Linked DNA regions of Homo sapiens. The protein of the gene in region 3 interacts with the protein of the main gene of each other region in a pairwise test. Each region holds a gene or a part of one and is shown on either strand. Other genes may lie near its edges.

The links.
Region 1: the proteins of TTYH1 (region 3) and HTR6 interact in a two-hybrid assay, tested with the Homo sapiens proteins (one large-scale study listed by BioGRID and IntAct).
Region 2: the proteins of TTYH1 (region 3) and GPR37 interact in a two-hybrid assay, tested with the Homo sapiens proteins (one large-scale study listed by BioGRID and IntAct).
Region 4: the proteins of TTYH1 (region 3) and DRD2 interact in a two-hybrid assay, tested with the Homo sapiens proteins (one large-scale study listed by BioGRID and IntAct).

What each region holds. Positions count from the first base shown.
Region 1 is NC_000001.11:19,670,497-19,675,377, reverse strand, and holds part of HTR6 (5-hydroxytryptamine receptor 6), read right to left. Parts: intron 1-4,881. UniProt on the Homo sapiens protein: G-protein coupled receptor for 5-hydroxytryptamine (serotonin), a biogenic hormone that functions as a neurotransmitter, a hormone and a mitogen. Also has a high affinity for tricyclic psychotropic drugs.
Region 2 is NC_000007.14:124,758,378-124,763,258, forward strand, and holds part of GPR37 (prosaposin receptor GPR37 precursor), read right to left. Parts: intron 1-4,881.
Region 3 is NC_000019.10:54,424,577-54,429,457, reverse strand, and holds part of TTYH1 (protein tweety homolog 1), read right to left. Parts: intron 2,786-4,881; coding exon 2,690-2,785; intron 152-2,689; coding exon 79-151; intron 1-78. UniProt on the Homo sapiens protein: Calcium-independent, swelling-dependent volume-regulated anion channel (VRAC-swell) which plays a pivotal role in the process of regulatory volume decrease (RVD) in the brain through the efflux of anions like chloride and organic osmolytes like glutamate.
Region 4 is NC_000011.10:113,415,594-113,420,474, reverse strand, and holds part of DRD2 (D(2) dopamine receptor), read left to right. Parts: intron 1-2,338; coding exon 2,339-2,448; intron 2,449-3,475; coding exon 3,476-3,612; intron 3,613-4,863; coding exon 4,864-4,881. UniProt on the Homo sapiens protein: Dopamine receptor whose activity is mediated by G proteins which inhibit adenylyl cyclase. Positively regulates postnatal regression of retinal hyaloid vessels via suppression of VEGFR2/KDR activity, downstream of OPN5.

The DNA.
Region 1 (4,881 bases), on a different chromosome or scaffold from region 3:
AAACCTGAGTGGCCCTGAACAAATCAGCATTATCATCCCCATTTCTCGAGCACTTACTACACATCAGCATTTGATAGTCATTAGGTCATTCAGTCTTTATGAGAGGTAGGCATTGTCATCCCCATTTTGCAGATGAGACAACTGAGGCTCGGAGAGGCAAAATGACTTGCCAGAAGTCACACAGCAGTTAAGAGTTGAGTTAGGGATTCCATCATTTCTGGCCTCAGGAACACCACTCTGCCCACTTCACCAAGCTGCTTCCACCTTTGGAGACGGCATCCATGGGCCCAGTCAGGTGGGGTTACAGAAACCCCACCACTGTCAGCAAGAGGCCCTCATGGAGCAGAAGCCAATGGCTGTCACTAGTCCACACCCCGGCATCTGGCTGATGCTGGCATCACCCTTCTGGATTCTCTCTCCCCCATAAGCACCTCGCAGCCCCTTGGGGCCATGTCCTGTCGTTTGCATCTCCCTTCTGTATCAGTGTCAGAGGGCAGCTTCCTGAAGGACAATCCAGGGCCCTTCCAGCCAACAATCACACATACAGCTTCCAGCCAACACCTACATTCATGTCTGCACGCTTCACATATCCAAGAATGTGTCCCACAGCACTACTTGTGATAGGAAAAAATTGGAAACAGCCTTAATGTCCATCAAAAGAAGAGTGGTTTAGGCTGGGCACAGTGGCTCACGCCTATAATCTCAGCCCTTTGGGAGGCCAAGGTGGGCAGATCACTTGAGGTCAGTAGTTCGAGACCAGCCTGGCCAACATGGCAAAACCCTGTCTCTGCTAAAAATAAAAAAATTAGCCAGGTGTGGTGGTGCATGCCTGTAGTCCCACTACTCAGGAGGCTGAGGCAGGAGAATCACTTGAACCCAGGAGGTGGAGGCTGCAGTGAGCCGAGATCACACCACCACACTCCAGCCTGGGTGACAGAGTGAGAGTTTGTCTCAAAAAAAAAAAAAAAAAAGAGAAGAGTGGCTTAAATAAACCACGGTGAATTCCCACTACAGAATACTACACAGATGTTTTAAAAGAATGAATCAATCAAATGAAAAGATCTCCATGATTATTAAATTATAATAGCAGGTTGCAAAGTAATAGATACAGCATGATCCTATTTGTTTAAAAAACAATATCCAACACAAAGCACCAAGTTTCTTTAAGTACCTGTATAAATACATAAGCACATAGAAAATGACCCGGAAGGGCTAGGTGCAGTGGCTCACACCTGTAATCCCAGCACTTTGGGAGGCCGAGGCAGGTGGATTGCTTGAGTCCAGGAGTTCAAGACCAGCCTGGGCAGCATGGTGAAACCCCATCTCTACAAAAAATACAAAAATTAGCCAGGCATGGTGATGTGCGTCTGTAGCCCCAGCTACTCCGGAGGTTGACGTGGGAGGATCACCTGAGTCAGAAGAGGTCAAGGCTGCAGTGAGCCGTGGTTGTACCACTGCACTCCAGCCTGGGTGACAGAGTGACACTCTGTCCTAACAGAAAAAAAAAAAAAAAAAAAGACCTAGAAGGACATATCCTAAATTGATGCATGTCCCTGGGAGTGAAAGGTGATTAGCTGGAATTTGGAGGTCTTTTCCTTCATCCCTATTGTTGAATTTTTAAAGTGTATTTATGTATTCCTTTGTGCAATTAATTTTATTTATTTATTTATTTATTTTTTGAGACGAAGTCTCGCTCTTGTTGCCCAGGCTGGAGTGCAATGGCGCGATCTCGGCTCACCACAACCTCTGCCTCCCGGGTTCAAGCGATTCTCCTGCCTCAGCCTCCCAAGTAGCTGGGACTACAGGTGTGCACCACCATGCCCATCTAATTTTGTACCTTAGTAGAGATGGGGTTTCTCCATGTTAGTCTCAAACTCCCGATCTCAGGTGATCCACCCACCTCGGCCTCCCAAAGTGCTGGGATTACAGGCGTGAGCCACCACGCCCAGCCCACAATTAAATTTTGTTACCATCATCTGATCATAGTGTGAGAGTTACAAGACAGACTCTGGAGCCAGACTGCCTGGTTTCAAATCCTGGCTCTGTTACAAACTAGTGGAGTGACCTTAAGCAAGTTACTTCATCTATGCTTCCACTTTCTGTTCTGTAAAATGGCACTAAAATAGCATCTACCTCATAGGATTATAATAAGGATAAAATAAAATAATACACTGAAAGTTAGAACAGTGCCAGCACATAGGAAGTCCCATAGAAGTGTTAGCTATTGTTGTCATTATTATTAGTCTCTGGCTCAGCTGTTTGATAATGATGGTGATGGTGCTGGTGACAGCAGTGATGTTTTTCCCTAGAAAGGGTCAAGGTGGTGAGCTCCCCAGAAACATATTTTACCAACAACAGGAAAAGAGAGGCACGAACAACTATTGTTGTTGTTTTAAAGATGGGGTCTTGCTCTGTTGCCTGGGCTCAAGCAATCCTCTCACCTCAGCCTCTTCGAATAGCTGTAACTAAAGGTATGTGCCACCAGGCCTGGCTAATTTTTTATATATATTTTTAGAGACAGGAGCTCGCTATGTTGCCCAGGCTGGTCTCGAACTCCTAGCTTCAAAGAATCCTCCTGCCTTGGCCTCCCAAAGTGTTGGGATTACAGTTGTGAGTCACTGCCTAGCTGAAATTTGTTGAGCACTTACTATGTGCCTGGTATTTTATGTATATTATCTAATTGACTCTTCAAACAGACTTGTGTGATAGATGTCATGACCCCTGGAGCATAAGGAGGTAAAATGCCTTGCCCAAGATCGTCCAGCTATGAGGCAAAAGAGGCAGGGCTTGAACCCTAACCAGCCAGACCCCCAAGCTCCTGCTCCAGCCCTGGCTGCACCAGGCTGCCTGGCTCTGAGCAGCAGCCAAGCCTGCCATGCTCGGCAGTGTCACTCTGCCAGCCTCTCCCTGGCTCGGCCCCCTCCTCCCCCTCACAGATATTTCTGTGATCACAGCCTCCTCCTCTGAGGAGGAGGAAAGACAGAGATGGAAGGGAAGATGGATCACTAAGACAGAATGACGCTTAGTTGGGTGAGAGAGGGTGAAAAAAGGAGGGGGAGGAGGAAAAGCGGGAGAAATTGATGGGACAGGAGAAGGGGGAGGGGAAGACGGGGCACACAGAAGGAAGACATGGGAACTGAAGGAGAGAAGGATGGATGGGAGTGGGGAGGAAGGTGAGGTGTAGAGATGGGATGAGGTTATGGACCACAGAGACCCAGAAATCCTGCCAGGAAGAGGAGGAGGCTGGGCCTCTCCTGCTGGGCTCTCCCTCAAGCCAGTGGCCCATGCTGCATCTCTGAAACTGCCCCTAACACCCTGGACCCTCCACAATCTCCCAAGGATGGCTCAGTGCCACCCACATCCAGGCCCCCACCTTCCACCCTGCTCCCAACACACACACTCCCCTGCCCTGGTAGCTCCTCACTCTGCCCCACGGCTCTTCCTCCATCCCCAGCCCACACTCCCAGCCACAGTGCTAAGCAGGACCCCTTCCTCCCAGCCCTGAGGTGGTGGGAAGACCTAGTGGAAATCACTAAGCCAACCAGTGGCCTTTTAAAAGCCCATTTCCATAAATAGACATATGGAGAGGGGATGAAATGCTCAAGGCTGACCAGCTCCCATGTTCTGACCCCAGAGGAACTGGGGCCTCGAGACCTATGCCCAGCTCCTTTCCCTCTGCAGGGAAGCTAGAGAGTGGAATGGGGCAGGAAGCCAAGGCTAAGTGGGGCTGGGCACAGGAAAAGGGAAGGGGTCCAAGACACCCACATCTGATTCATTCTCATCACTTCCTTTAGGTCCAAACATTGAGGGGGCCTCCACCTCCAGGCCAGCTCTGGTGGGAAGAAAGAGGCGGTGACCCAGGAGGGCCAATGCAATTTCTCAGATGCATTTTCCCAAAGTGCAGGCCGTTCACCAGGCAATCAGGAAAACGGCCTGCAGGAGGCTTACTTAAGGAGCCGAGTGGATTTGAAAGCAGGAACAGAGGCAGAATTTGCACACGTCACGTTCAAACCAAGAGAATGGGCTTTCCAGAAAGCGGGGGGATTAGAACAGACACATTTCTGGCTTGAGAGGCCCCTGAGTCACTCTGCCTTAGAAGTAAGGCGCTGGCCTAACCAACCCATGAAGACCCCTCCAGCCTTTCACTTTAGGGCTTGGTGTGAGTGCTTTGCTTTCATCTTCAAACATACACAGTGAATAATAGATTTTGAATGTTTGCTGGGTGAAGCATCCCTCCTATAAGCTCCATAATCCTCATCGTGGTACAGTTTGATGATTAATGTCTGTACTCCTAACTAGAACAGATTTCAAGAGGGCAGGCACTGTTGGTCTCGTTCACCACTACATACACAGCCTAGAACAGCTGCTGTGCAAAGCAGGTGTCAATACATGTCACCAAGCAAATGAATTCACACGATAAAAAGTTCAGGATCATGACACTCAAGAAGTGACTCTGAAAGGCATGAGAAAACAGGCAACCGCACAAACAGGGCTGGAATACCAGGCTCCCTGAAGCACTGTGTACACTGCATTCCTTCCATCAATACATACTGAGCACCCATGATGTGCCAGGTGCCCCTAATTCCTGGGACCATGGGGGAAAACAGAAAGACAGGCCAGGCATGGTAGCTCACGCCTGTAATCCTAGCACTTTGGAAAGCCAAGGCGGGTGGATTGCCTGAGCTCAGGGTTTCAAGACCAGCCTGGGCAACACAGTGAAACCCCATCTCTACTAAAATACAAAAAATTAGCCCGGTGTGGCGATGTGCACCTATAGCCCAGCTACTCCGGAGGCTGAGGCAGGAGAATTGCTTGAACCTGGGAAGCGGAGGTTGCAGTGGGCCAAGATCACGCCACTGCACTCCAGCCTGGGCGAGAAAG
Region 2 (4,881 bases), on a different chromosome or scaffold from region 3:
TTTCCCTAAGAATACTATTAGTAACTTTAAAATTGCTCATAAAACAGTAAGTTTCCACTTAAAAGTCCGGCAGAATACCTAATGACTAATCCACCTCTCAAAGAAAATTTACCATATGCCATGATAAATGTTCTATTACTTGAATACAGGCGTTCTAGGGAAATCTGTGTAGACTCAGATAGTTGTATGGCACTGTCATCTTCAACCTCCAAAAACCCTTTCTTTCTTGTCAGTGCTAGCTACAATCTAAGGCAATGAAAGAGCCATTTGTTCCACTCAACTTAAAACCAGTATTGCTAAAGTCATTGGAGAAGCTGGTTCCTCTCATTAGAAAAGATTCTAGACTTGTCACAAATTATTCCCAGACCAGAGGCCATGGTAAGACATGTTCCCTTTATTCTCTCTCCACCTCTGTGCAGGAGTTTTATCCCAGTAAAATAAAAATACAGTTAGATCTGGGGTTATCTCATTATAATTATTTGAAGCCTTCTGTTCTACAACACTCCATGAAGGTGTGGGTTCTTTAAACTAAAGAGAATCTCGATCATTCAAAACCTCCAATTAATGTCCAAACAGACCTTAATCTGTTATCTGGGATCTCGGTCAGATGATACCTTGATTCTGACTTCCATTAAATAATGAGCAAAGATTCATTCCAGTTGCCATATTTGATGTCTGAATTATTTGAATTTTTTTTTTTTTTTTTTGAGACAGGGTCCCACTCTGTCACCTAGGCTGGAATGCAGTGGCATGATCATGGATCACTGCAGCTTCAACCTCCAAGGCTCCAGAAATCCTCCTACCCCAGCCTCCTGAATGGTTGGGACTACAGGCATGCACCACCACATCCCGTTAATTTTTGTATTTTTTGTAAAGATGGAGTTTCGCCCTGTTGGCCAGGCTGATCTTGAACTCCTGGGCTTAAGCAATCTGCCTGCATAGGCCTCCCAAAGTGCTGAGATTACAGGGGTGTGCCACCACACCTGGCCCAAATTATTTGGTTTTAAACACTTGTTAGATTCCTAAGTGAATGGTAGGTATGGTAGAGAACTCCTCTGCCATTCTCCTATTGCAATCCACACCCACACATATCTCCACCTCCCCTAATACACATAAAAGCACACTACATATACAAGTTTTGTTTTGAGTATAGTTTTTTTCTTGTGGCTAAGTAATAAACCACTTTAAACTGATGTGTCTAGGAGGACGGCCATGATCTATCCAAATTTTCTTCTCTCCTATCTGGCATTTCCTACCATTTCATTTGTCCTTCGACTTTATGAGATTTATTATTAGGCCATAAAGATGTCATAATCCTGGAATAGAAAGGGAAAAGTCATCAACTACAACAGTTCCCAGAACATTCTCACTCACGGCAATATTAAACATCATAAAACTTCCTTTCTCACAATAGACCTTGGAAGCTGGGTGCTATCCTCAAGCTTTAGGCCAACAAATTAAAATAGAAAGAGGAGTTGAATGAAAATTAGAAAAAGTATAGTTTTTACTCAAGAAGTACCTCATATTTTTCTACACAAACCCAAATCTTCCCCAAAATCCCACGATTCCCTTCAGATTATGCTAACGCTCAAGCTGTACAGGAGAAAGAACTGTGGTAGAAAAGAAAAATAAAGCAAAAGAGAAGCTGGGAGAGAAAAATTATAAAATTCAATCATAATCTATTGAGAATAAAATTTAAAATTAACTACGAAAAAATTAAAAATAAAAACACTGAAAAAGGTTAAACATCTTACTGGAAAATGGTGAATGCTACATCATAAATCTATAAGAAGGTATTATACATAGTTAAAGAAAGGAAAAATAGCCAAGAAATAAAATAAGAAAGTAACAAGTGAAGGAATGGCAAAATTTAGAAATATGAAAGTAGACAAGATGTCAAAAAATTTTTAAAAGTCTTGAGGTCAGAGGCAAAATTTTGGAAGGGGATTTGGAGAAAGTTTGAACAAATGTAATGTACTTGTAATGTCCTTCACCAATCTAACATACTTCATGATTTTAAGAACATAAAATTTAACCTATATAACTTTTTGGTCATTAAAGTCATCATGCTAGGCAAATTAAAAAGTATAGTTGTCTCAGATTACTGCAATTTAAAAAATTTTAATTAACTACCAATTGCAGAACTTACTGACAGTTTATGAGAAACAAAAGAAGCTATACATTTCATTATATAACAAATGATGTTTACGGGTTTTTATTTTTTCCTGTCTAGTGGATTAAAAAAAGAAAAAATTTTTCAGATGCCAAGGAGCGGAAAGGAAAAGAAAACACTCACTGGATAAAGCTTGTGCTTCATACAGGTTGGTCTAATCAGCAAATATAAACATGAAGCATTGAGACCAAGGGTCTGGTGGCTACTGACCAGGTATATATGTTTAGGATAGTCTCTGAGCTTCAAATTTCATCTTTAAAATGAGGGAGTTGGATTAGAACATTATCTATGTCTGATTTAACATGATTGTTCAAAAGCTACTGTAAGCTGGGCGTGGTGGCTCACGCCTGTAATCCCAGAACTTTGGGACGCAGAGGTGGGCAGATCACAAGGTCAGGAGATCAAGACCATCCTGGCCAACATGGTGAAAGCCCATCTCTACTAAAAATACAAAAAAAATTAGCCGGGTGTGGTGACACGCACCCGTAGTCCCAGTTACTTGGGAGGCTGAGGCAGAATAGCTTGAACCCCTGAAGCAGAGGTTGCAGTGAGCTGAGATCGTGCCACTGCACTCCAGCCTGGTGACAGAGCAAGACTCCGTCTCAAAAAAAAAAAAAAAAAAAAAGCTACTGTAGTGGATGCTGTGGTTTTCCACCCAGACAGCTCCCTCCAAAGTCCTTCAAGAATGAAGCACTGATTCCTCCAGCTGCTGGGGCTATTGGTTGACAGTGCTTAGCTGCATCCCTCTCTAGGAATTGCCCTTGACCAAAGAGATCCACCCAACTCAAGGTTATACCCCATCCTGGGAGCAGGCTTGCATCCAATGTCTTACATCTAATGACTGGTCCATAAAGAGATGTAAAGGCTGAGCCCTCTTGCCTCAATTTGGGATATGGCTGCATGGCCATCCCAGCCCTAAAGCTCCTAATGGTGTCAGCTGAGGTCTCTGTGGCAATTGCATCACAGTTCAACTTCTCCCTTTGCCCGCCCAATCCTGCTTTCTTCTTTCCTTAATAGGTTGAACCTGAGAGCACAACCCAATAAACTTGATGCCCCAATAAATCTACATCTCAGGGCCTGTTTTTGCAGGAACCCAACGTAGGAGAAACCCTAAATACCTCTTACTTTTGTGAAAACATCAGTGCCTCCTGGAGACACACTTTTATTTTGAGATTTGGACTGTAGTTCTTGTTCTCAGTAATCAGGAATTATGAAGCCAGCAATATTGTCCAATAATTATTTTTATAAACCATTCTAAAATTATTTCAGAGTAATAAGGATTAGGTAGAAATATAGAAATGCTACATATTAAGATGTTCATTCACTATTTTAACAGTAAAAATGTATATTATACTGTAATTTTAAAAAATAAATGAGTGAATTTTTTAAGCCTTTGATTCTCTAAGAAAAATAAATGCTAGCACTAATAACTGAAAAATAGAGAAAGCTACTAGGATGGGGAAAAGTTAAGCAAAAATACAGAAAGTAAAAGATTTTACTAATAATAAGAGGCAAAAAACAAAGCACTCTTAAGGAGGAGCTGATTAAATTAAAAAGTGAAATACAAATGAAAGAAAGTATTACATTTGTACAAACTCAGAATTACGGAAAAAGAAAATTAAAATAAGTACATAATAAATGCCATTGCTCAAAATGCTTATATCTCATTAAATTAACCAAAGTTTTTATAATCTTTCCTGAATTTGATATTCTTTTCTTTTAAGGTGTTCTTTCAAGAACTTTGGTGTTTTTATTTTTCTTTCCCCAATTTCCTTTTTCTGTCCTATTGTTTTTCCCTCTAGTGTATACAGATTTCTACATGTCCAGTACATTTCCAGTGAGATAAGCCAATACACTTCTCTGTCATTGAGGTACCTCTCTTGTCCGCTTTATACTTTTGTCTCTTTCTTGCATAAGTCAATTTCTTCTGATAAAAAAAAAAAAAGAAAAAAAGAAATTTGAAACTGACCTTGAAGAGGCAGTTTGGTAAATAGACACATATTCTCTAACATGAGTTCAACTGGCTCCTTCACAATTCAAAAATGAATTGTCTACCAAACAAAGTAGATGTTTCAGAGATACGCCAAGCTTGGCAACAGGAGAAATCATGGACGCTGCTAAAGCAGCAACAGCTGATTTCATAGTCATGGAATGATCCTGCACCTGATCCCTGTCAAGATAACAGAGGGTCTTATTTACTGTCTCCAGCTTTGGTCCGTCTAAGTAGGTACTGTTTTCTGTTTACTTATCCCCCAGCTTTAGGCCTGGAACAATGTTGAACATAGTGTCACAGGCCCTGGTGCCAGACAGGATCAGGGGCTGCGGAATATTTACAGTTTCCCTTCTTCTGCTTCCATAAATGAAATGGACAGTCTGAATGGAGAAAATCAAGGGCCAGCTGGCTAAAAACACAACTGGCAGCAAAACAGTTGGGCCCCTTCCAAGAGCTGGTGTTTAAAGAGAGGCCATTTAAAGAGCAAAGTCCACCTACCACAATAGTGGGCCAGGACACTAGCTGTAGGATGAAACAATGCAATTTCACTCAAAATGATTTTTGTTTCCAAAGTTTGGAAACTAGATGTGCCCCCTTCTTCCCAAGAAATTTTCTAGTCTTAGGGTCAATCCCTTAAAATAGCCAATCTTTCCACCCATAACAAATAACAAATGTATAACTTTGAGAATGTTAAACAAATTATGTGCCACGCTGG
Region 3 (4,881 bases):
TGCCATCCCGAGATCCAGAAGTTGAAGTCTCCAGGCCCCCTGAGTCCCAGAGCCCAATGGCCCGGCCCTGGCACTCACCACGGCCGTGGCTGCCTCCAGGCCCATGGAGCCCCAGCTCAGGACGAGAACCAGGAGACTCATGACTGTCATCCTAGAGTGGGGGAGGGAGGATCAGCCCGGGGTTCTTAATCTCCTAGCCTAGCCTCTTTCCACACCCCAAATCCCATCACAGCCGCCCCCCACCTCCACCCACCTCTGGAGCCTGGAGGATCAGAATTAGGGAAACACAAGTTCAGTGGTTGGGGGTAGGCCAGTGGCTGCTGATGTCCAGCTGGACATCTGGCTCCTGCCCAGATGAGCAGGGTGTGGGGTATGAGCAGGGCCCTGGGCTGGGTGGTCGCAGCTTGGATCCCAGCTCCAGGACCCTGGGACGGTGACTGCTCACCTCTGGGCTCACTTCCCCCGAAGGCTCCCCCAAGTCCACCCACAGCCTGATCAGCCTCTGGCTCTGCCCTGTCTCCTCTGAGAATGGGAGACAGTGCCAGGGCTGAAATCTGAAAGTCTCTGGACTTTCCGGGTGGGGAGGGGTGCAGGGGGCGTGTCAGCATTGGTAGGGTGACCAGTAAGCAAGAAGGGCACCCAGGGGTCCCCAAACTGAAGGCCTGGCTTCCAGTCCCAGACCTGCCCTGTGTTGGCTAGGTTTATGGGTCTGCAAGCCTTACGCGGGGTCTCTCCCACTCTCTCAGGGGCAATGGAGGTACAGGTTCAACTCTGCCTCACCCCACCAGGGCCAGAGAGAATGCAGGGACTCCTCCAATGAGAATGGCCTGTCTGGTTCAAATCCCAGCTCTAGCACTTCTAGCTGTGTGGCCCTGAGCAAGTGGTCCAACCTCTCTGATCTTCAGTCTCTCCCTCTGTTAAACAGGGAGAAGGGCCAGGCATGGTAGCTCATGCCTGTAAACCCAGTACTTTGGAAGGCTGAGGCAGGCTGATCACTTGAGGCCAGGAGTTCGAGACCAGCCTGGGCAACATAGCAAGACTCCATCTCTACAAAAATATACAAAACTTAGGCCAGGCACGGTGGCTCATGCCTGTAATCCAGGCACTTTGGGAGGCTGAGGCGGGCGGATCACCTTAGGTCAGGAGTTTGAGACCATCCTGACCAACATGGAGAAACCCCATCTCTACTAAAAATACAAAATTAGACAGGTTTGGTGGCATACGCCTGTAATCCCAGCTACTTGGGAGGCTGAAGCAGGAGAATTGCCTGAACCCAGGAGGCAGAGGTTGCAGTGAGCCAAGATCGCGCCGCTGAACTCCAGCCTGGACAACAAGAGCCAAATTGCAGCTCAAAAAAAAAAAAAAAAAAAAAAAAAAACTTAGCCGGGAGTGGTGGCATAAGCCCATGGTCCCAGCTACTCTGGAGGCTGAGGTGGGGGGATCACTTGAGCCTCAGGGGACAGAGGCTGTAGTGAGCCGTGATCATGCCACTGCACTCCAGTCTGGGCAACAAAGCAAGACCTTCTCAAAATAAAAAACAGAAATAAAAAACAGGCAGAAGGAAGCACCTTCCTCACAGGGGGCATGAGGTGCTCCAGGGAGTGCAGAGAAGAGTGTCGGGCGCGTAGAGCGAGCTGTGAAATCAGTGTGGTCCTGCGGCTTTGCCACGACACTTAAGGACGGCTCAGTCTTGGACTTGGCCACCCTCTGCGCTCTTAGTCAGGTCCCTGACCGGCCACATGGAGCCTTATGGTAGCTCCTTCATGGGGTGGAGGCAACTGAAGGACTCAGCGTGCATGACCCTCAATAGATCATCATCCTCATCTGTTTTTTTTTTTTGTTGTTGTTGTTTTTGAAATGGAGTCTCACTGTGTCGCCCAGGCTGGAGTGCAGTGGTGCAATCTCAGCTCACTGCAAGCTCCGCCTCCCGGGTTCAAGCGATTCTCCTGCCTCAGCCTCCCGAGTAGCTGGGACTATAGGCGCCCGCCACCACGCCCGGCTAATTTTTGTATTTTTAGTAGAGATGGGGTTTCACCGTGTTAGCCAGGATGGTCTCGAACTCCTGACCTCGTGATCCGCCCTCCTCGGCCTCCCAAAGTGCTGGAATTACAGGCGTGAGCCACCACGCCCAGCCTTTTTTTTTTTTTTTTTTTTTTTTTGAGATGGAGTGTCACTCTGTCGCCCAGGCTGGAGTGCAATGGTGTGTGATCTTGGCTCACCACAACCTCCACCTCCTGAGTTCAAGCGATTCTCCTGCCTCAGCCTCCTGAGTAGCTGGGACTACAGGCGCATGCCACCACACCCAGCTAATTTTTGTATTTTTAATAGAGACAGGGTTTCTCCATGTTGGTCAGGCTGGTCTCAAACTCCTGACCTCATGATCCACCCACCTCGGCCTCCTAAAGTGCTGGGATTACAGGTGTGAGCCACCGCGCCTGGCCTCATCCTCATCTTTATTGCCAACACAATGATTATTTCTGCCATGATTCCAGCATACTTCATACTGTTAGGGCTGCCTGTTTTCAGGTCTGTCCCCGCCTCCCTCCTGGGCTGCTCTGACTCTCTTTTCTTCGTGTGTACCCGGCCGTGAAGGACCACGGTCCTCCGTGTAGGAGAGTTGTAAGACTGAGGTCCTGCCTGCCAGGAGAGTGCCAGGCAAGCACTGGGTCCCCCTACTGCCTGCACTTACACGATCACCAGCCACTTGCTCTGCTTCGCCAGGCCCAGGAGGGTGAAGAGGCAGACCAGCAGCTCCAGGAGCAGCAGGAGGACGTAGGCCAGCCACCTGGGAGGGGAGAGGGTAGGGCTGAAACCACAAACCTGCCTCCAGGCACCCCGGCGGAACAGCAACCCTCCACCAGCATTCACCCTGCCCCCCAGCTCAGCCTCACATTCACCACCCTCCAAGCTCAGCCTCCTGCTGTTTACTGTGTCTGGGCCACAGCCCAGGTCCTCTGTGAAATAGTGTTATCATGAGACAGGACACTGGAGCGGTTTAGAATACAGGTCCTGAGCACCTGGGACTATCCCCTGGCCGGGCCACACACATGTGCCCTGTGACCAGGGACACGTGATGTGTTCTCTCCGAGCTCCCCATCCCCAACCCCACCCTGCAGAGTGGAGATACTCGTTCTCAAGACTGCACCAAAGATCCCATCGCATCCCTGGAGGGCATGACGTCTGGAGGCAGAGGCTGCCTGGTCTCAACCCCAGCCCCTCCGCTTAACTGGCCGGGTAACTCTTGTCTCGGTAACCTTAGCCTCTCGTTCCTCAGTTTCCCTACATGTAACGTGGGGAGCACAACAACACTGGCTTGAGAATATTGCCTCGAGTGGGCTGCATGACTAGAAGTGCTTAGGAGAGTGCCAAGCACGTGGACACACTTAGAGGTTAGCCTGAGCGTGAACGAGGGAACTGAGATGTTAGTTAATAGTTAATACTTGGCCGGGCGAGGTGGCTCACGCCTGTAATCCGCGCATTTTGGGAGGCTGAGGCAGGCGGATCACTTGAGGTCAGGAGTTTGAGACCAGCCTGGCCAACATGGTGAAACCCCGTCTTTACTAAAAATACAACAATTAGCCGGGCGTGGTGGTGCACGCCTGTAATCCCAGCTACTTGGGAGGCTGAGGCAGGAGAATCATTTGAACCCATGAGGTGGAGGTTGCAGTGAGCCAAGATTGCACCACTGCACTCCAGCCTGGGCGACAAGAGTGAGACTTAGTCTCAAAAATGAAAAAAAAAAAAAGTTAATCCTTAAATATCAGTGAAGGGCCCACCACCATGATTCAGGAGGTGCAAGCATGCAAGCCACAGTGAGAGACAGGACTAGCTGGATGTCCGAGGCCGACTAATAATCCCTAAGCCTAGCTGGGAAGGTGACCGCATCCACCTTTAAACACGGGGCATGCAATTTAGCTCACACCCAACCAATCAGGTAGTAAAGAGAGCTCACTAAAGTGCTAGTTAGGCAAAAATAGGAAGTAAAGAAATAGCCAATCATCTATCACCTGAGAGCACAGGGGAAGGGACAATGATCTGGATAGAAACCCAGGCATTCCAGCCAGCAACGGCTACCCACTTTGGGTCCCCTCCCGTTGTATGGGAACTCTGTTTTCACTCTATTAAAACTTGAAACTGCACACTCTTCTGGTCCGTGTCTGTTACGGCTTGAGCTGAGCTTTCGCTCGCCGTCCACCACTGCTGTTTGCCGCCGTCGCAGACCCGCCGCTGACTTCCACCCTCCGGATCCGGCAGGGTGTCCACTGTGCTCGTGATCCAGGGAGACACCCATTGCCGCTCCCAATCGGGCTAGAGGCTCGCCATTGTTCCTGCACAGCTAACTGCCTGGGTTCATCCTGATCGAGCTGAACACTGGTCGCTGGGTTCCACGGTTCTCTTCCGTGACCCACGGCTTCTAATAGAGCTAAAACACTCACCGCAGGGCCCAGGATTCCATTCCTTGGAATCCGTGAGGCCAAGAACCCCAGGTCAGAGAACACGAGGCTTGCTGCCCTCTTGGAAGTGGCCACCACGATCTTGGGAGCTCCGGGAGCAAGGACCCGCCGTAACAACAGCACAGTGCCCGGCACGTAGTAAGTGCTCAGTTAATCCTCCTGCCATTCTCTGCAGGCCCCACAAGCTTGGGCTTCACTCCTTACCCTGGTCTCTGGCTGCTTCCGCCCAGCCTCGCAAGTGCTCCCCTCCAGCAAGACTCCCTTGGAGGCCCCTGATTTGTCTGTCGAGGGACTCCCAAGTGTGGGGTGCTTTCGCAGTGGTGCACCCGGAAGATATTTTCTAGTGATGGTGGGTCTGCCTCACCCTGGCATCACCCTTATGGCTCCCACCACTTCCCTGCCCTCGCCCAGGAGAAGGAGCTGAGGC
Region 4 (4,881 bases), on a different chromosome or scaffold from region 3:
GACAGTGGCCACCAATGCATTTTCTTGAGTCTTTAAGTTAGCAGCCCTAACTACTCTCCAAGGCAGCTTCCCCTGGGACCACAGAGGAAATCTCTTTGTTATTCTGGGCTCCAGATAGGCCAGTGCAAGGAGAGATTTAAGATGTCCATGAAGGCAGGACTGTGTCTGAATTGCTCACAACTGTGTCCAGGAGCCTAGGATAGAGGCTGGAACACAGTAATTTGCTCAATAAGTGTTTGTAGGAAAGAAGGGATGGCAGAAAGGAGGGAAGGAGAGGAGGAAGACAGGGAGGAAGGCCCTGATATCTCAACCTAGATCCCCAGTGGCTCCCAAGTACTGGTCCCAGGAGGGGCTTCAAAGTGGGATGTAAATCAGGTAGTGCTGGTTTTCTGCCCAGTGGTACCCTAAAGGCACACTCTGTTTATGCCAGGAAAGCCCTTTACGTACCCTCCTGCCTCCACCCGCAAAATGGGCATCCAGCTGTTAGCTCCTGCCAAACTGGTCAGCGCAGCAGCACAGGGAGCTGGGAGAGAGGCCCTGGTACGGGGCCCCCATGTGAGCTCCCAGGAAGACAGTGCCGCATGAGAGGCTTGCTGTGTTCTGGGGCAAGCTGCTGTTTCTGCCACACAGGATGACAGCAGCTGCATTGCCCATCATTGAGCTTAAATGCCAGCATTTGGTTGGATGCCTAGGAGCAGAAGAGAGGGCAGTGATCAGAATGAGCAAGGTTATAATTAGCCCTGCTGCCAAGCTACACGGTGACACGAAGTCTGCCCTACTCCGGGTTGCGGGAGGGGGCTTTCACGCTCCTCTCTGCTCCTATTGGTAGAAGCCAAAGGTGCATCTCCCTGTCCTGACTCCATCCTCAGGGAACTGGGGCTGCTCCAAGCTTCCAGAGCGCTAGGGACAGCTGCCGTGAGTGTGTGCCTGCGTAATCTGCCATGAGTGTGTGCCTGTGTGTGAATGGGTGTTACGTGGGGAGGGGGGAGGGCGGTGCGTTCATGTGTGTGTGTGTGTGTGTGTGTGTGCCTGTGTGCATGTGTGTATGAGAAACGTGCTCCTGCCAGGAGCTAGACTCTTCATTTCCCATCCTACCAAGGACACAGCTCATCACAGCAACCCCTCCGCCTACCCCAGCCCACTCGGGTGTTCCTCGAGCACTAGCCCAGATCTGCCTTCTTTCGTTCTCTGGGTATAAGAAGGAGCAGAAATTTCTTCTCTGTTTCATGGCGAGTCTTCATCTTCACCATTATTCTTAACAGATCATTTTGGGGCCCCGACTCTGCCATGTACTGGGCCAACCACTGAAGGGCTTGCCTGGCTCAGCCAGAGCCTGGGCCAGAGCAGGACTAGGAACTGAGCCCACAGGCCTTGGGGAAATCACTGCACTTTTTGGAGGCTTGGTTTCCTCATTGGTTCTCAGTTTCCTCACGGGCATTCTAAAATTTTACCTGGAATCTAATTTACAGAGGTATGGCTGAGTGATAACACAGGGAAGCCAGTGCCATTGGGAAGAGTTTAACGTGATACACAATGTCCCTAGAAACCAGATGCTCAGCCCGCCATGTGGGGTGCAGGGGGAAGCAGCAGGCTTGGGTCAAGAGTCAGAATCAGGGGTGAGGGAAAGCCCAGGCTACAGCCCTGTTGGGGCTCCCACAGGAAGTGCAAGGCAGGGCAGATTAAGCAACCTAGGGTTGGCTAGTCTCAACATCCTGGCAGGCTTTGGGCTACAGGGGTGATCTCTAGTTGTCTCTCTGGTACCTGAGATAATTTGGGACAGGGGAAATATTGTCTTGGTGTGTGTGTGAATTAGAGAAACGGGGTGGCTGGCTTGCATTTGAGAGGCATCCTTCCAAGTCAGTCATTTTCTGTCTTCAGGAATTAACTAGCTCTGGGACAGTAAGTCTCTCTCTGGGTCTGTGAGGCTCCCAAGTGCCAGAATATCAGGATCAGAGAAGATAGAAAAATATAGTCAATATAGGTGTCTCTGTGATGAATGGGTGCCAAATACACAAATACAGAATCTAAGAAAACACATGGGGTTAACAAAGGTTGCAGAGATTAAGGTTTAAAGTTGAGGCCCTCCGTATAAGTTGGCTGTCTTTCTTCTAGCACAGTAATTGGCAATAAGTGGTCTTATGTATCTGGGAGAAGATAAGCGAGGGGCAAGGGCCTCAGACACCCATGGGCATCACTCCCCACACCCCAGCTGGATGCCCACAAGACTTGCAGCTGCCTCCTGAGTCTGTGGCCTCATCGGCTCCAGGAGTACCAGGCTACAGGACCTAAGCTAATCTCCCACTCCTGCTGTCCATCCATTATGTTGCTTTGTCCCCAGGTGGTAGGTGAGTGGAAATTCAGCAGGATTCACTGTGACATCTTCGTCACTCTGGACGTCATGATGTGCACGGCGAGCATCCTGAACTTGTGTGCCATCAGCATCGACAGGTGAGCCCAGCCAGGGTGGAAGAGGTTGCTCTGGCCACTCACCATTCTGGCTGCCCCAGCTTTTCTCAAAGCCAGGCTGTGTCTCGTGTCTGTGATGCTGTGCAGCTGGCTGTGTGCATGGGGGTCCATGTGTTTGTGTGTATGGGTGTGCATGTGTGTATGTTTGGCTAGGAGAGCACACACTCCCTAAAGAGAAGCCATCTATGGACAGTGATGCTGCCAAGCATACTCAGACAGTGACTGGTACAAAAGGGGAAAGATTGTGATTCTGACGGAAGCCCTAGCTCTAGCACATCTTACTCATGTGACCTTGGGCAGATGATGGACGTTTTCAGAGCTCTCAGTTTCATTTTCTAGAAACCTACATTGATGACACCTGTGGCCTGGAGCTGCAGTATCTGGTTATGCATTTTATGTCCTTGGCACATGGCCAAGGGTCCCAGGCCATGCACACCTTGCTAAGCTGCATCCTTGGAGCCTTCCACTAATTTGCACAGATATGACCCTACCTCCCTCACACCATTCTTGGAAGATGAAATAAGTTAATGAATGAGAAGGGCTGGGTAAAAAAAAAAATGTGATGAAGGATTGTAGACAATTGCCATTGTTATTTCCTGCTAACTAAGGCTTAAATCTTGCTCTGAGGGGCCTGGCTAACAATTTATCAACAAACATTTCCACCTTATGGGCTCAACACAAGTGCAGTGGGTACAGTTTCAAAAGTGCAAAGATGCAGGCCATGGTTCTTCGAAAAGCCTGAAATCCAGGTGGGGCCGGTTAGAATAATAGATATGAGCTAAGAGTAAACAATAGCTCACCAGTGATTAAGTGTTTGGGCTTTGCCAACTGTCCTCGCCATCTGAGTTTGGGGACAGGAGGGAGGGTTGAGTTAGCATCTCAGGCAAGCTTCATAGAGGTGTGTCAACTGTTTAGCCCCAAGGAGTGAGGGTGTCTCTGGTGTGTGCATATTGTGGAGTGAGGGGTCCCTGGGCCTGCACCCCAGATTCAGGGTCCCCCGCCCTTGCAGGTACACAGCTGTGGCCATGCCCATGCTGTACAATACGCGCTACAGCTCCAAGCGCCGGGTCACCGTCATGATCTCCATCGTCTGGGTCCTGTCCTTCACCATCTCCTGCCCACTCCTCTTCGGACTCAATAACGCAGGTACATTCTGCTTTTGTTTGCCTGAGGCTCAGCTGGCCCTGGGCCCCTGCTCCCTCGAAGGGCCCTGAGGGAGCAGAGTCCCTGGCACAGATATGGGTGGAGGCCCAATGGAGGCCTATCACTACCCTGGACTGAGTCCAGGCTACGTGTCCTGGGCCAAGCCCCACTCAAGAGTTGTTCTAGGTTGGCAGAGAGGAAACAGTGGCCCAGGACACAACGGAGTTGGATGAGGAGTGGGGATAATGGTTCAGGGGTATGTCTGGGAATTTTCAACTTTGGTTATTAAGTTGAAGAGGCAAGACGTGCTTCACAAACTGCATGTGTGTATATGTGCACATGAACATGGGATGGCGGAGGCTACTGGGCTTCCATCCACTCCTGACAATAGTATTTTTGTAATGAAGCTGCAGCCCTCAGGGCCTGCTAAACCCAGGTCAGGCCTTAGCCACCTGGAGCAGGAAAGCTAGAAGTGAATAGGAGGTAAGCTGACCACATGCCCATTTCTGTGGGAGGCAGAGTCAGGAGTGTCTCAGACAGAGGCAACACAAAGCCCCCGCCAGCGTGGAACTTCCTCTCATCAGGGAGGCAAGAGCGATGGCAGGTGTGCACCTCTGGAGATCGTAACAACAAAAGATACAGTGAAGCCTTGAAAATGTGTGGTTCGGTATCTATTATAAGCATCACAGGAATTCTAAGTGGGAATAACACTAAACATACTTGGATTAATGCACAAGGCCCTGAGATAGAGGACAGGCGTCTGGTAGACCTAGAAGGGCACGCAAACATATGAAACACATAGGAACACAAGTGAGTTCAACAGACAGAGCCAAGTTATCTTGCTGCAAACATTAAAAGGTGGCCAACCTCTCCCAATACACAGGTCAGACTAAAAAGATGGTTTACTCTTTTAAAAGTTTTCTTGTGTCATTCTTTCTGGATACATCGGCTTCACTTGTTATGCCCAGACATGGCAAAACTAATGACCAAGTAATGAGGGAATAGTAATGGAAAGACTTGGGAGCAGTCCATCATCACAGCTTAACTTTTTGCTCACAACCGTGTTTTTAATACTCTGGTATCTGCTGTGCGTTTGTGTATATCTAAGATGACCAGGCAGCCTTAAACATCTAGTTGCGTTCATATTCTCTGTAAAATCGCTCCTTGTTCCTGGAAGGACATGAATGGGCTCTTGTGGAATTATGGCCGGTGGGCCCGCTGACTCCCTGCCTGCCCGGGCTCTCCCTCCCCCAGACCAGAACGAGTGCATCA